Linked DNA regions of Homo sapiens: region 2 is linked to region 1. The links come from fine-mapping of genetic effects on gene expression. A gene starts in region 1. The other region holds a variant in brackets. All regions are shown on one strand. Distances are between the middles of the regions. Region 1 holds the start of HAPSTR1 (HUWE1 associated protein modifying stress responses). Region 2 overlaps HAPSTR1 (HUWE1 associated protein modifying stress responses).

What was found. PIP is the estimated chance that this variant, and not a neighbour inherited with it, causes the effect. A credible set is the group of variants that fine-mapping cannot tell apart.
Region 2: its variant is the best candidate, but not a certain one, in a credible set for the expression of HAPSTR1 in regulatory T cells (Schmiedel 2018, PIP 0.71).

Annotation. Positions count from the first base shown.
Region 1 is chr16:9,088,970-9,093,490 of GRCh38, reverse strand. It overlaps HAPSTR1 (HUWE1 associated protein modifying stress responses), which reads right to left and starts at 1,847. Exons shown (of 4, transcript NM_014117.3): 1 at 1,221-1,847; 2 at 490-570. The coding sequence starts at 1,446. RefSeq lists enhancers at 378-547, 2,817-3,682 and silencers at 698-1,197, 1,408-1,747, 1,918-1,987, 2,776-2,906.
Region 2 is chr16:9,116,662-9,120,923 of GRCh38, reverse strand. It overlaps HAPSTR1 (HUWE1 associated protein modifying stress responses), which reads right to left. Exons shown (of 4, transcript NM_014117.3): 4 at 1-4,256. The coding sequence ends at 4,012. Among named protein-coding and RNA genes, the nearest start is that of HAPSTR1, 27 kb to the right of the region's middle. The variant A/G (reference allele first, on the strand shown) is at 1,794.

The sequences.
Region 1 (4,521 bases):
CAAGAATCTTTTCCATAAAGTTCGTCCCACTTCCGACTGTAGTACAAAAAACATCAACTCTTATCTTCCCTCAATGTCTTTTCCAGAGGGAGGCAAGGCTCAGCCGTCTTCCAGCTCAACGCTTCTCAACCTGAGCACTACTGACTTTAGGGGCATGATAATTCTTCGCTGAGAGGGGGCCGGGGCGGTTATCTTGGGCACTGCAGGACCTTCAGCAGCCTCTATACACTGGGTGCCCAACAACAGCCCCTTCTAGGAGAAGCCAACCAAAAACGTCCCCAGGCGTTGCCATCTGTCCCGGGGGGCGGAGGGAGGTGTCAAAATCGCCTCCGGTGGATCTAGCTAGAGCACCGCCGCGATTCTCAAGTTGCAAGGTATTCAAGGTTAGCAGCTGGGCTGGGGAGCAGAAAACACACTTGGAACGCAGGGCAGACACCCTGACGCAGGCGGCCCTTCCCTGAATCGGCAATGCAGCAAGGTTATCTTTACCTTTGTAGAGATTGGTGACGGCGGTGGCTGCGTTTTGGAAGGGGACCCAGAGAGAAAGTCCTGGCTGCTGACACACTCGGTCTGAAAAGCAAGCCAAAAAAAAAAAAAACCAAAAAGAAAAAAGAAACACACATAGAAAGAGAAAGAAAGAGAACAAGAATGTTATTTGCGCGTCAATCACTCCGGAACGGCCATATTAGGTTTCGCCATTTTGTTCAGGGGTTTCGGGATCCCAAACCCAGTGTGAGGACCGGGGGGGCAGGGAGGTCGCGGCGGGGAAAAGGGGATGCCGCAGAGCTCAGGGGCACAGATCAGGGACGAGCCGCGGCGCAGGGAAGCGCCCCCCCTGGCAGTCCCCGCCCCGAGGCCGGCTCAGGGCACAATGGGGCCGCCCCGCCGTCTCCCTTCGCCATTTTGTGACGGGGGCTCCTCCTCTCCCGTCTCCGGGCCGAGGGGGACACCGGGTGGCCGGGCCCGGAGAGCGGGGACCCTCGGACCACCCCAAAGCGGGGCTACCCCCACGCCGGCTCTGGCCTGTCCCCCCAACCCCGGGCCTCCCTCCCGCGGCGCCATCTTGCGGGGAGGGGGCGGCAGGGCCGCGGAGCCACCGGCCGGGATCCCCGAGGCCGCCGCCGTCGCGGCCCCCCGAAGCGGCCGCTGAGCCGATAGGGCCGGGGCCGGGCCCGGGCGGGGGCGGCCAAGCGGTACCAAGATGGCGGCGGCGGCCTCACCTTTGTAGAGCTGGGCCACGGCGGTGGCCGAGTTCTGGAAGAGGTGCCACAGCTTCTGCTGCTTGTGCTCGGGCTGCGCGGCGGCCGCCGCCTCCTCCTGCAGCTCGGGGGGCAGCTGCTCGTCCTGTTCGGCCTCGGCCAGGCACTGCCGCTCCCACTTGGAGAACCAGTGCTCGGGCCCGTGCTCCTGGATCTCGGCCTCGCCCTCCTCCTTCCGCTCCTCCATCCTCCGCGGCCTCCCGCGGCCTCGCCGCCACCGCCGCCGCGTCCTCCTCAGGCGGGGCCCCCGCGGGAGCGTCGTCGTCAAGCGGCCCGGCGGCAGGGCCTGGCGACCGACGGCGCCTTCTCCTTTCAGCGGCCCAGGCCTCCTGCACCCCGACGGCCGGCGAGCCCCGCCCCGCGGCCCCGTGCAACCAGGGACGACCCCCGCCCCAGGCCTTCCCACCCCCGGGCCCGGCCGAAGGTCGCCGCGGACCAGATAACCGCTGCCGCCCCTCGCCTCGGCCGCCGCAGCCTGTCTAACGCCCCCCCATGGCGCTGCGGCCTCCCCACTGCCGCCGCCGCCGCTGATCGCCGAGCCCTCCGCGCAGCTCGGCCTGCACCGCGGAGCCCACCCCAAGACTGAGCAACGTCGTCGTCGTCGCCACCGCCGAGGACGGCTCTGCGGCTGCTGGTCCCCGCCCTACCCCGCCCACATGCTGACAGGAGAAGCACCGCCCACTGGGCCCAAGCTACCCTGCCCGGTTGAGGCGTGGCCGCTCCAAGGGCCCCTATTAGTCGGATCCGGCCGGTTCCGCGTGGCGGCTTCTGAGCACAGCGTCGTGATTGGTTCTTCGGCCTGTCTGCCTGACGTAACCAATTGGCTGGGGGAAGGGAGTGAATGTCAGGAAGGATGAAGGAGGAGGAGGGGGAGGAGCTGACAGTGGTTGCGTCCGAGCCAAGGGGGCGGGTGGGGGGTGGAGGGGAAGAGCTAGAAGGGATGCGCATGCGCACTTGCTCGCTGCTCCCCCCCCCGCTCAGGGGCGTTGAGTGGGGATCACGTGACGAGGCCCAGCGACCGCACCCCGCGGGAGCTTTTCCGGCGTGTACAGGCCCTGGGGGGATGCAAAGTCGAGTGCGGCTCCTGTGCCGCGGGCACTGAGAGGTATAGTGGGTGGTAGCGTGCTTACTCCAGCCCCTGGGGCTCCCAAAGGGAGGAGGGTAGTAGAGAAAGTGAATAAAACGCCCAACTCGTGTCCAAGTTTGCAAAGCGCTTTCCTATTCTTTTGAGTACTCCCCCTTTTTTTTTTTTTTTTTTGAGACGGGGTCTTGCTACGTTGTCGAGGTCTAGACTGCTGGCCTCAGGCGATCTTCCAGCCTCCCAGGGCGCTGGGATTACAGGCTTGAGCCACCGCGCCCGGCCCAGAGTCCCATTTCTTAGACGGGCAAATCGACCATCACAGCCAAAGAAAAACTTCCGAGTTGCGAAGTCGGCTCAGTTGCCCCTGCGCCCTGGCGTCCCCCGAGGACGTCGCGCCTTCCGGGTGGACAGGACCTCGGCGGCCGCCCGCGGAGCCAAGGATAACCCGACGGCCGACGGTGCCCGGTGCCCGCACGCGTGCGTCTGCGCCTTTGCGCGCGCGGCGGCCCCCGCACCTGTCCCGAAAAGCACACTCCCAGGCCACGTGCATGCCCCGCGTCACGTACCGGCCCCTGCCTTCCCCGGCCCGAACCCGCGTGGCGGTGCCGAGCGCTGCGCCCGCCCCTACTCCCCCCGCAGTGCGCGATAGCTGGACGCCCCTGCGGCTGCGCGCCCCCCTCCCCTGTCGGGGCTTTCTCCAGGGTCTGAGGCCCCGGAGAAGGCAGCAACGCAGACAGGCGGTGACCGCACAGAGGCAAAACCCACCATCCCCACCTACATGCCCACGGGAGGCACCATCCGGCCTGGAGCGGCGGAGGGCGCCGGCCAGAGGCAGCGTCGCCCGCAGCCTGCGATAGTGCGCTTGCACAGAGCAAGGCGGCTTTGGAAGAAAATCTGACCCCCTCACCGCGGCCTGCAAACCCCTGCAGGATCTGGCCCTGGCGCCTCTCACACAATCCCCTACTTGGCTTGTACCTTGCGCACTCCCCCTCTTCCCCACCTCGCCTGGACGCTCACACACTGGCCTGCCTTATTTCCCTGGGACACTAGGCTCTTTCCTGCCCCAGTCTGCTATCTCTGGAAGCTCTTCCTCCTCCTCTTTCCTCAGATAGCTCCTGTTTAGGAAGCCTACTAGGACAAGCCTAAAGTAGCACCCTTCACACTGTCTCGTATTGCCTGGTTATATTATTTCATAACATCAATCACTATCTAAAATGCTAAATTAGGCCTGGCGCGGTGGCTAAAAAACAGGTTTCCAATTGTAGGGAAGAATATAAAGTGAAAAGCAAACAAAAATCATTCTACCTACCTCATTCTACATCCTCCCAATCCTATTCCCAGGAAATAACTTGTGACCTTTGAAAACGGAGTTATGTGTACGTCGAGTGTGTATGTGTGTGTGTACCTATATACAAGTATGTCCCTTCTTAAGGAAAAAAAAAGATGATTTTATGTGTACTATCCTACAAGCCTTTTTTCCTTAACATAATTTGGATGTCTCCACATTGGGACCTAAAGACTTATTTATTCTTTTAAAATATTGCAAATAATTTCATTGTATGGATTCACTACAAAGTATTTTACAGGGCCCCTATTGATACAAATTTAGATTGTGACCAGTCTTTGGCTATTATAAACAATGCCATAATGAACATCTTGTACATATGTAATACAGTGAACATCCTTGCATATATACATATGTGTATTGAATATATATCCTCAGAAATAGTATTTTAGAGTCACAAGGTATATGAGTTAAATATTTTAGGAGGGTAGGCATGGTAGCTTACACCTATAATCTCAACAATTTAGGAGGCCAAGACGCAAGGATTGCTTGAACTCAAGAGTTCAAGACCAGCCTAGGCGACATAGTGAAACCCAGTCTCTACAAAAAAATACAAAACACAGCCAGGCATGGCGGCACACACGTGTAGTTCCAGCTACTCAGGAGGCTGAGGCGGGAGGATTGCTTGAGCCCAGAAGGCATAGGTTGCAGTGAGCCGAGATAGTGCCACTACACTCCAGCCTGGGTGACAGAGACCCCATCTCAATCAATCAATCAATCAATAAAACTGCCTGCTGAGTGTACGATCAATGGTTGTTGATATGTCAATTTCTACATTTCTGCATTCATGGTAGCACGTGGGAAGTCCAGGCCTGCACATGTAGGTATGACAAAGG
Region 2 (4,262 bases), 28 kb before region 1:
CTTATCTGTACAAGGGAATACTATTCTGTCACAAGATTTCACCATATTTGAAACCCCGTATCTAACAAAAATACAAAAAATAGCCAGGTGTGGTGGCAGGCACCTGTAATACCAGCTACTCGGGAGGCTGAGGCATGAAAATTGCTTGAACCCAGGAGGCAGAGGTTGTGGTGAGCCAAGATCGTGCCACTGCACTCCAGCCTGGGTGAGAGAGTGAAACTCCATCACAAAAAAAAAAAAAAAAAAAAAAGATTTCACCATATTACTTCTAATGTATAAAAGACCTGTATATACTATAAGCTGCTGTGTGGCTTGATTTTTGCTGTTTTAAATCTTTTTTTTAAGCACTAAATAAAAAAAAAATGAGGGGCCATCGAAAACTTGACTTGCTACGTCACAGGCTACTGTCTAACTGAACTTCACAAGGAGCCTGCAGATCCCATTATAGGAAGTAAAACCCTGGATATCTCATCCCATCAAACCCAACAGCACAACACACGGTCTGACAGCCAGCCTGGGTGCTCGGGCCTGCTCGTCTCTCAAATGCTGCCCCCACTAAAACATCACACACCTCAAATATTCCAAAGGGAGGCTAGAAGCTGGCCTTATGGGGTAAGGTCATCTAAACCATCAAAGCCGACAACTTTCCAGAAGGGGTAGCAGGTACCATAAACACTTATAACTTTAAACAAGGGGTTGCTCTGGAAGAACCTTTCTAGTCACTTTATTCCACAAATCCAGAATGTATCTCTGAAGATTCCCATCCTCACCATGACTAAATACCTCAGTCACCAATCTAATGAATGAAGCACCAGGTTACAACATACTACATAAAGTAAAATGCAATGAGATTAATCTGCTGACGTAGTCACCACTAGAGGTAGTAGCCAGGCCAAAAACTCAATCATTCTGTTCATAATTTTCTAAACTTATGGCCCCATTTCAAAATCATCTCTTGGCGTCTTGCACTGGCCTCTGAGGCTGACTAGCCCTCTGGGTTGGATGTTGGCCATCCCTCTCACTATAAAGGAAGTTAGCCAGTTTTCACTGTTGAATGGAAATCTTCAGGCCCAAAGCCACAATTATTCGAGTTTAATGAGTTCCAGTAGCCCTTAGAAAAAAACATTTAGAAAGCTAATTCTTTTTTAAAAGCCTAAACTTCATTTGATTGCATCAAAAAGTTATTCAGATGTGATGACCAAAACAAAACTGCAGACAAGCCCCATGGTTTTTTTGTTTTTATTCATTTTATGATTAAGGTGTTTATCACTACTCCAGTTGGGTAAACCACATTGAAGAATCTGACTGCAGGTCTTTAGATTCAGCCAAATGCTTTCCAACAATTTTGCTCTAAAAAATATTAAACATTTTAATACTTCAGCCATGCTCAGAACGCTGCAGTCTAAGGATGAACTTCAACTTGCCCATGCCAAGTTAGGGCGACAGGAGCAGAACTAAGGAGCTATGACGTCTAAAAGAATCAGAGAATCTGGCTTAAGACGAAGAGAGCTTCTGTTCCCCAAAACTAAACTGTCTAGTTTTTAAATCCACCCTTAACCGTTCAAGAAACTGAAAAAGTCAACTTGTTTTTAAAATACCACACAGGTATGCAATCTTCCATGATTTGTTTTGCATCTCAGCTAGCACAGGGAAACCCTTGAAAAACCTAGCTGTCAGAAGTTTTTCCTGAGGGAAATCATTACGCTTCTACTGCTGAGCTTCATGTTTATTCTGTGCGTCGGGGAAAGGAGAAAGCAATGGGACAGAGAAGGGAAAAGTTGCGACTGGGTGAC[A/G]AATTCATTAGGTGCATTTGAAAGTAAACGCAATGGAAAAAAGTAACAAATGCTAAAGTTTTCTAAAAGTTTAATGAAGCCAATAAGGCATATAAATTGTGTTCTGGCAGACATTAAGACCTGCTTTCTCTTACCAAAGAAAATGGCACGTTTTATCAAAATTTGACAATTCAGAGTAAAGGGTACTGAGATTAAGCTTCAGAGCACCAACTTAAACAAAACAACCAAAAAATTGTTATCCAACGTGGAAAGAGGAGCAAGAACCAAGGCATAAAGGGGAATTAAATATGTGTTCCTCCATCTCAAAATCCTTTTAGGAATAGGAGTTCTGGCCACTTGTGAGCAACACATTGCACCACCAAACCCCAATTCCAGAATCTAAATTTACGATAGAAAAACAAAGGTAACTCCAAACGCATGTCTTGTATATTCCAAAGGGAAGCTTGAAAGTATTCATAATACATAGGCTTGTCTGTTTCAGGTAAAATGACAGATTGCTATAATTCTTCCTGCTATTATAGTCAAACAAAAAATGACCCACTTTCGCAAAAGTTTAGAAATCTCTCACTTTCATTCCTAGTTTTAGTATGGAATTCACTTTTTTAAATAAGGGCTACATCTATAATGAATACAGAACTTCAATTCACACAACATTTCTAACATTCCATTCACATCCCACCCAGTCAATGAATGAACATTTATGGTTAACTCAGCAAAGTTTCTTCACAGAAAGATATTATTAAATGGCTGAAGAAATTGCAAACTTTAACAAAGTGCTGTGAGTAATTACTGGAAAAACCCTTACACTGATTTGCAATGGTCTTTTAAGGATAAAAATAGGAAGTAACTGATACTGGACTACAAGTTTGCAAGGAAACATTTTTCACTGTCCTACTTGATATATAATATAATAATATGATAGAATAAATTACAGTACCTGGCAGGCTGACATCAGTTCTTCATCTAAAAAAACACTATCATTCAGTTCAGGATATTAAAAATGAAGATGAAACATGCTCTAAAACATTGTAGCTACAAGAGGTCTTATATTTACTCAAAAGAGGAATCTATTGAGAACTTTTTATTTAGGTCTACCTAACAGCTAGAGAATCTCCATGCGATTCCATCTTTTCCAGAATGAGATTCCAAACTGAACTTTTTAGGAGAGGGATTGGAGGGACAGGGAGAGTTGGGTTTTGCTATTTTAAGTTGCAATCACATTATTAGTAGATAAAAAAGAGAGCTTTATCATCTTCCACCCATTCCAATGGAAACTGCACTAAGCAGGGACTCCATGAAAAATGTAAAATGATAGACTAGAAAACCTACCCCACCATCCATCTCCCTCTCCCTCTCACTAATACTGAACCAAAAAGGAAGCCCATTCTCAAAGTTCATGACCTCTCTACTTTAGGTCACCTCGAATGCAGTCTACATGTTTACATTTACCATAAGGAAAGTACCCCGCATGGGAAGTAGTGTTTGTCTTAAAACTGAGTACTTTAGGCCTACAGGGTTACTCTGGGGACAGTTTAATAATAATACTGCTACTTTAGAGCACTAACACACACAAAGTGAATCCAATAAAGCTCTGGGCATTGATTCAATATTTAGTATTAATTGCATGACCATCATAGCACCTCTTTACATCACACAATCACCAGAATTAGAAATTGATTTGAAAACTAAAAACAGGGCACAGTCCAATAATTAGAATTGCACACTGTTACTATATAGAAACCAGGTGCATGGTACAGTGCAGCTGCAAAAATGGAAGCCAAATCATGTTTTTAGACAATTTTAGGAACCTGGCAATACTGTTGAAGCAAAATACTCAACACAGCAGGAAATGGACCCAAAAAAAAAAAAAGCATTCTATAACCAAATAAACATCTGATATTTCCTTTCCCTTTGAGAATAAATACAGTTAAGGTCACTTTTAGCCTTGGAACGGATATATGTTTGCCTATGATGATCTTGCTAACGACTACACAATATCTGATGTCCTCTGCTAGGATTATAGTTTTAAGAAAGCCATAATTACAAGAGGCATCTACTATAAATACCTAGAACTTCCTTTTATGGCAACCACTATAGAATTCACTTGTCTTAAACAGTGAACAAGGGAAGATGGCCTCATGTTTCCTTTGCAATTATAGTATATGTTGAGGATCAAGTGGCTTTCAAGCAGCATGGTGGGTGTGAAAATGTTTGCAGTTTAGATCATTCTGTTGCGTTTATGGGTTGGTGAGTCTGTAATGACATCGCCACACTGGGCTGAGGTACGCTTTCTAGTTCCACCATTGTCCAAGTGGAGTGCCATTTCTTCTGATATGAAAGTGTTCAAATCGACATCATGGAGTCCATTTCTCCTTCGACTAGCATTCGATCCACTGCTTACATGTGTAGGAGAGCCTGGGGTACTCGAACGCACGCTTATACTAGCCATTGCACCACTAAGACCTAGGA